2 linked regions of the Homo sapiens genome follow. The protein of the gene in region 1 interacts with the protein of each later gene in a pairwise test. Each region holds a gene or a part of one and is shown in the gene's direction. Other genes may lie near its edges.

Region 1 (3,916 bases):
AAAAAAAAATCAGTTATTCCTCTTTTCTGATGAGGAAGGACACTGTGTGTTACACTCTTTTATTCCTATGGCAGTCTATTGAGCCTTTAAAATAAGGCTCGGCATAGATCATAAGGCTCAGCATAGCTCAGGACAGTATTTACTGAAAACTTCCTAAAGCCAGTGGGGACAGGAAAATACTCTTTATGGCCTCTGAGTCTGGGACCCTTTGAGAACCTGTGTTTGGTGGCTTTACATAGAGTGAACATTTCCCATGAAGACTGTGCTTCATTAGACAAAAACTCTGATTTCTAAACTTTAGGGGAAATATCAGAAGCATCAATCCCTTGAAGCAGAGGTGCAAACAAAATCAAGACTCATGTCTGAACTGGAAAAAACAAGGGAAGAACGATTTACCATGGGTCATTCTGCCCACGAAGAAACGAAGGTATATGTATGGGCCCTTGAAGAAGTTTCCAATTATTGATTATGTTATCAGGGTTTTAACTGATTATATGAGATATAAACCTTGAGTGGCTGGCTTATACCCAGGACTCCTGCCTCTTATCTTCCCCTGGGGTTGAGGCATAAAAAATGATGGGATATCTTCGTGTTTCTTGGGGTGAAGAGAGCTGTGATATTAAAGCTGTCATTAAATGGCATAAAATTCCTCCTATAACAGTGCAGGATAATTTGGCTCAAGATCAAGCCCACTTAAACCTGTTCCACATTATCCAGATCAATTAGTTTTTTCCAATGTTCTTTCTAATTATTTCCTCTAACCTCAATGTCCTTGTCTCTTAACTTCTCCAAATAAGGAATGCTCTCTCATTTGAATGTTTTCCAAAATATTTTTCCTTTGTCTATGATGCCTCTTTCTTTTCATACACCATACCCTATGACTACTATTGCACCTCTCCAAACTGTCCCTTCTTATTACTTCTAAAAACTCCCAAATGTCATGTAGTCAGAAAATTTTCTCTGAACATCTAGAAATGAAGATCATCACTATTTCAATAAGGATTCATACTCTGTAATCTATTATTAATGTAACAGCTATTTTTGGACTTAATCTACGAACTCTTCCAAATGTTTGTGCTAATATTGTCAATTCAATTTTTTTGTGTGTGAGTGAACTTTTTACTGTTTATGTATTTTTTTAATTGTCAAAACAAATTTGCATTATATATCTTAAAACTGGGTCTGGCCTTTCTATATATAGCATAAAAATTCTAGCCCATTCTGTCATCAAAATATGGTCAACGGACACAGATTTTAGCCAGAATAGAATCTTATTTTAAAGAAGAACCCATAAAAGGAAAATTTCAAAACTTGTTTATTTGTATAAAGTATAATTAACTTTTGTATTATGCACAGTTTTGCATGTAACCAGCATCTACATTAATTACAATATTTGAGAAATGTTTGAAACATCTTCATTTCTGTCAGAATCACTGGGGCTATAGCAAATGGTACCATTGCGGGGTTTAACGACATATGTGGTCCACATGCTACCCAGAGCAATGGAGTAGTTGAAAAATATAAGATTCTTGAAGATATGACATAGGTGGCAATTTCAGTTATATAAGACAGGTAATACATAATGTTCTGAGTTAATCTGGCATTCAAAGCCCTCTGTAGATTCTCAAACTGTATAGTCCCAAAACACTGTTATTGTTTCGGTGCCAATGATTTCCTTATAACTTATAAAAATTATAGCTCTCACACTTTCTGGCAGACAATTCATGCTAAGTTTCTCCTATGCCTTTGCTATTGCTGTTTGCTCTTCTTAGAACATGTTATGCTTATGATTGACCTGTCAAAAATCTTTCTGCTCCATAAGGCTCAGTTCAAATGAACACTTTTCCATGCTTTCTTCCTCCTTCCCATCTTATTGTTTGTAATTATTCCATCCTTTAAAACTGCAAAGCATTTTTACAAATTGTTCTCTTATGTAAGATCGCATTTGGCTTGGCTTGTTAGCTATTTCCATATATCTATCCTATTTCCTCTTTTAAATGTTTGTTGAGCAACTAATGCATGAGTAACTGAGAGAAGAATTTTTATCCAGGTCTCTTTCTGCACAAGTCTCTGAGTGTTTCCCTGCTCCCAGTGTCTGTGGCTGAGTGGTTTTGCCCCTCTTTCCTAAAGGCCCATATAGAGGAGCTACGCCACCTGTGGGACCTGCTGTTAGAGCTGACCCTGGAGAAGGGTGACCAGTTGCTGCGGGCCCTGAAGTTCCAGCAGTATGTACAGGAGTGTGCTGACATCTTAGAGTGGATTGGAGACAAGGTATCGAACTTAAAACAGCAATCACACAGGGCCTCCCACTCCTCTGTCCCAGGTACCCCATAGCAAATTACTGCAGACTACTCACAAGGAAGTCAGGATGTCTGTTCCTGGCTTTGTTCTTTGGAACAAGAGGAAATTGGGGCCAAAATGTAGGGGTATCTGGAGGTCAACATTGTATGGAAGTAAGTCTTAACATATGGATCTGAATATGAAAAAGGCAAGACTTACACAAAGACCATGCATTGAAAGATAATTAGGCTCATCTCTCTTCCACTTCCATGATTTTTAACTCCTTCTCCTATGTTTTTGCTCTTACTCTGGGGTCTGGCTGAGAGTATTGACAGCTCTTTCTCTAATCCTTTGTGTCTCAGTGCCTATAAAGATGGAGGGTTTTATTTTTCTAAATACTAAAGGAATAATTTAATAGTTAGGACTAAAGATTTAGATAAGCAAATGCCTAACAAAATACTTTCGTAGATACTGATATGTTGAATTGAGTAGAAACAGGATGAATTTATCCCTCATGTTTCAAAACACAAAAGGGTACTTTCAGGGTCTCTTGCCAGTAATGCCACAAACTTGCTAAAGAACTGCCCGAAAGAGCACTTTCCCTTGTGCCAAGGTGCTACCTTAACAAATATACTTCTGCTGCTGGCCTTTTCCAGGAGAGCTTCTCCCAGTCTCCCCCAGTATCTCCATTTGAGTTATCCTGGGAATGCAAGCAGGAGTTTTGAGTTTTTGACCTACAGAAACTCCTAAATGTTTGCTGGCAACTCAATCAACTTCTGTGTCTACAGGAGGCTATAGCGACATCAGTGGAGCTAGGTGAAGACTGGGAGCGCACCGAAGTTCTGCATAAGAAATTTGAAGACTTCCAAGTGGAGCTGGTAGCTAAAGAAGGGAGAGTTGTTGAAGTGAACCAATATGCCAATGAGTGTGCCGAGGTGAGGTGGGAGCAAAATATTCACTCCGTGCAAAGGGTTCTTATCCTTAAGAATAACTTCTGGCCATTAGTAGATGGATATGAAGGAGATGGGGCATTGTGAGAAAACAGAGGTTGGCATGTTCCTGGAGTAACATATTCTGAACAGTTTCCTCTCCCCTCTGGACCCACCCCTTACAAGTCTATTGAAATGGAGGGTTGAGAGAGAAAGAGAGAGTGTGTTTTTGTGTGTTTGGAGAAATTAAATACACAATGGGCAGTGAAGCTATTGCCATTTATATAGTAGCTTCTGTACCATGCAGTACACTGATTACTCATGTTAATGGGGCACTCTTTCTTCATGAAAAAACACAAAAATAAAGTAGCAGAGCATATAAAATAATGTTGAGCTATCATTATTTATACATATATATGCATATGTAATATCATTATACAAGATTATTTCGGAGGATTGAGGAAGGAAAGGAAGCGGTTTTACTTTTATTTACTTAAGAAAATACTTAAGTTTGTGATGTGTATATATATATAAGTTTACATGTATATGTAAGTATATAGATGTAAAATAAATAAACTCCAACAGTTGGCTATATTTTGCTTTTCCATTTATAGTTTCATTATGATTGCAGCTCTATAGTGAGAATGATTTTCCTGACTTAATAAAAAGAAGACTTCAGAATGAATGAGTGCTGGAGTAGGAAAAAT
Region 2 (3,916 bases), about 67 Mb from region 1:
TAGCGTTCTTCAAGTACACCATGTTTAAGGCAGAGGCATCATGCTTTCTACTACCTGAGGCCACCTTGATCCTCTGCCATAGCTCCGGGTCACTGCTTCTATAGGGCTGTTGGTCTAAGGCTGCCGGTTCCAAAAAGAAAATAACTCGGTATTGAGCTCTGAAACCAGGAATTTTATTTATTTATTTATTTATTTATTTATTTATTTATTTTTTAGATGGAGTCTCGCTCTGTCACCTAGGCTGGAGTGCAGTGGTGTGATCTGAGCTCACTACAACCTCCTCTTCCCGGGTTCAAGCGATTCTCTTGACTCAGCTGGGATTACAGGCGTGCACCACCACGCCCGGCTGTTTTTTTATTTTTTATTTTTAGTAGAGACAGGGTTTCGCCATGTTGGCCAGGCTGGTCTGGAACTCCTGACCTCAGATGATTCGCCTGCCTCAGCCTCCCGAAGTGCTGAGATGACAGGCGTGAGCCACCGCACCCGGCTGAAACCAGGAAGCTTTTTTTATGGTTAAAAATGGGCTACACAGTTCAATTATAGACAAATCAGGCATTGACCACGGATCACTATAACCTGTCTTTTCATTTGGAAGTGTACATTATCCCAACCTTCCTAACTATCTTTTGAATGGTACCTGCATCTTAAAACAAAACACCAAAACTTTTGAATGGATTCCTGGAGTCATGGTAGGTCCTCCATTTTGGATGAGATCCTTCAGCAATAGGATCCCTGTAGCAACAACCCTTTTCTATCCTCCTCACCTTTTATACAGAAAGTACATCCCTGTCTTCCGGACTAAAAGGGGGCCGTAATTCGTACAGTTAAAAATTTTATTATTGGATTTGTTTTTAGATTTAAAAAAAACCGAAAACAAAACCTTCAACAACGATCAATTCTGGCTTCCTGGATGCCCTCCTCCCCGACTTGACTTGAAATGAAATTGCCTCGCCAGTATTTTATATCTACTTTTTAAGGGAGGTGACTTCAAGACCATTGGGAATGACGAAAAATTTAAAATTATCATTAGTTCCTCTCTCTCCCCGCCCCCTGCCCGGGATTCCCTCTTTGCTAATGACGCTGGAAAGCGGCTCCACTGGCTGCGTTTCTCTTCTTCCACTCTTGCGGCAACACACTGTTCCGCGCGCGTCTCCCGGCGACTGCGTTTCCCCGAGAGTCGGCTGCGTTCGTTTGGGGATGAAGTCATCCCTATACCTAGTGTGCACATCAACTCGTTCCATCGGCGCAGCACGCTGGGATTCCTCGGGAAGAAAAGGAGCGAAGGGAACAATGATGACCATATTTTCCATTTATATGCCCCTCCTCAACTCCGCAGGAATCGCTGGGCGCAGCCGCGGCGAGGGCGGGCAGTTGGGCTGACCGGGATGCCCCCCGATTCCCTCATCCCCGTCCTGAGACCGCAACAGGGCGGGCTGAGCACTCGCCCCGCGCGAGGGCACCCGGCCGCGAGCCGACCCGGAGTCTCCTGGCCCGGCCCTGTGCCCAGTCACGCGTCCAAGCTCCCCACGCCGGTGCCTACGGGTCTGGCGCCCAGGAGGTCTCGGCGCCTCGGTCTCCGCACCGTGGCCGTGGGGGAGGCCTCGGAGCTCCCCAAGCCTCTGGGGAGCGGGAGGCGACGGGGAGGGGGCCGACGGTCAAGGACAACCACGGGCGAGGAACCCCGGCCGACAACTGGCCGGAGGTGTTGGGCGGGAGGGGGGGGTGGTGGCCCGCCCGAATCCCAGAGGGGTGCAGGGGGCGGGGTAGGGAGGCAACAAAGAGCCTCTCTCCGCCGCCGCCGCCGTCGCGCTCGCTCTCTCCCAGCCTCGCTCTCCGCAGTCCGGCGGGGGCCCGGCCGCCGGCGCGGGGGAGTGCGCCCGGCCCCCCGCCTCCCCTTTCCTCCCCTCCCCCCGCACCGCCCCCTCGCCCCCGGGGGAAGGAGGGGAGGAGGGCGGCGCCTGCGTGTTCCTCCGCCGCGCGCCCCGCCTCCTCCCGGGTTCCTCGCGGCGATCCCGACTCTCCTCCCGCGGCTGCAGCAGCTGCCGGTTGCACACGGCCTCGGCGGCGGCGCGGCGAGCGCGGGCCTGTGGAGCGGCGGCCGGGCGCGCGGCCCCGGCGGGCACCCCTCAGAGGGCGGCCGAGGAAGCTCCGGGAGGAGGAGCAGGACCACGAGGAGGTGGGAGGCGGCGGCCGCCTGGGGACCAGCTCCGCGCCTCGGCCTCTCCGCCCCCTCCCCAGCCTTTCTCTCGCCCTCTTCTCCCACACTCCCGGCCGGCGCCTCGGCTTTGTGCGAGGAGATGGTGTAGCCCCCTGGCCGCCGAAGGAGGAGCCGGACACTTGTCTCCCGTCTCCGAGCTGCTCCCCACCCCTGGAGGAGAGACCCCCCCCTCGGCTCGGCGCCTTCTGCGTCTCCCGGCTGGTGGGGAAGCCTCTGCGCCGCCGGCACCATGAGGTGAGGGGCGCGCGGGGCGGGGGCCGGGCGGGCCATTGTGCCGCGGGAGCCGCGACCCCCGTTCTCCTCGGACCCCGCCTTCCCTCTCCCGGCCCGGCGCGTCTCCCCTGGTCTCCGGTCTGTTCCTCCCCCCTCCGCCTTTTGTCCCTTCCAATTTCTCTTTCTTTCTTGGAAACCTCCCCAACCCGTGTGGTTTGGGGGTCTCGCTTCATCGTTCTCTCATTTTTCCTCAAATGCTCTTCTTTCACCCAGGATTTCCCTTCCTAAATTTAATTTGCGCCTGGCTCCCTCCCCCAAGCCTTTGCAAGCGAAACCCGGGAGATGGGGAGGGGTTCGAGAATCGAAGCGTGCGTGTTGCTGGGAAACAGGTATTTTTTCGTATATATGTAAAAATTTCATGCACTTTTGCCTCCGAACTCTCGTGTTTAATTAAAAAAGGAAGAAAAGTTTGAAAGGTCTGAAATCTCTGCGGGTAATAAAGTGCCTCTGGTAGGGGTAGGTGAAGGAGCTGTGAAAGGTGAAATTTCACGATGGTGGGGGAAGGGAAAGAATTGATTAGGTTCACGTGGTGGGGGCAGTAAAAGACTGGGATAAGTAAGTTGGTAGGGGTGTGTAAGCGGGGGCGGGGAAGGGATCTGTTTGGAAAAGCCTTTTCTCCCCTTTCTCTGTAGCAGCCTGTGTTGCATTGCAGCAGCTGCTTTTTCCCTTTGCTCTGTACTCAATAAAACAGGAGCTAAATTATTTTTGCGGCCCCGAAGAATTGAATGTACTGTCGTAAAATATTTTTTTAATTGATACGATGAAACATATGGTATGATATTTTTCTTTATTGTTTCTCAAATTGTGTAGGAGAATAAACCGTGATGTGGTGTGTCATTCATTGGAGATTTTTTTTCCAGCCTTTCCTAAACCTGTTCTGTGTCCATAACCTTCTCTTTTCGGATTGGTGCAAGACTTCGTGTGAAATGGGACTTGGTAGACTGAAGGCTGATCCATTCTGCGTTATCATCCTTAAAGGCCTTCCTTTTGGGTTAAACAATTGTGGATAAAGTAAATTACTCCATTTCTCTCTCCTGGAAGAGATAGTCTTACAGTTCATTTGGATTTGAATCTCCTTTGTGTTAAAGATTAATGGCCAACCGTTGCTAAGACCTTTATAATGTAATACAATGAGATTTGAATGATATAATCTACAAATTCCTTCGCTTTGGCAAGAAAATGTCATGTCATTGGAATTCTTTCTCAATTTCGGTAGTTTCCATTTTAAACTTTGCTTTTCATTTTTTTTTTCTATCAAGGTTAAACGTGTTTCCATTTTGCTTTTATATATATATTGTGATATATCTTTGTTGAATTTTTACTTAGGCTTACTGTGAATTTGAATTTTTTTTTCTGATTCCAAGTTACCTGTATTTATGATGGCCTTAAAGAGTGAGTTTAATGTGGTGTCTCTAGGCGACTGAC

Evidence for each region.
Region 2: the proteins of SPTA1 (region 1) and ENAH interact in a two-hybrid assay, tested with the Homo sapiens proteins (one study listed by IntAct).

Annotation. Positions count from the first base shown.
Region 1 is NC_000001.11:158,679,882-158,683,797, reverse strand, and holds part of SPTA1 (spectrin alpha chain, erythrocytic 1), read left to right. Parts: intron 1-301; coding exon 302-427; intron 428-2,130; coding exon 2,131-2,271; intron 2,272-3,068; coding exon 3,069-3,215; intron 3,216-3,916.
Region 2 is NC_000001.11:225,651,222-225,655,137, reverse strand, and holds the start of ENAH (protein enabled homolog), read left to right. Parts: upstream 1-2,176; 5' UTR 2,177-2,447; coding exon 2,448-2,452; exon of another isoform or gene 2,453-2,773; coding exon of another isoform or gene 2,774-2,820; intron 2,821-3,916. UniProt on the Homo sapiens protein: Ena/VASP proteins are actin-associated proteins involved in a range of processes dependent on cytoskeleton remodeling and cell polarity such as axon guidance and lamellipodial and filopodial dynamics in migrating cells.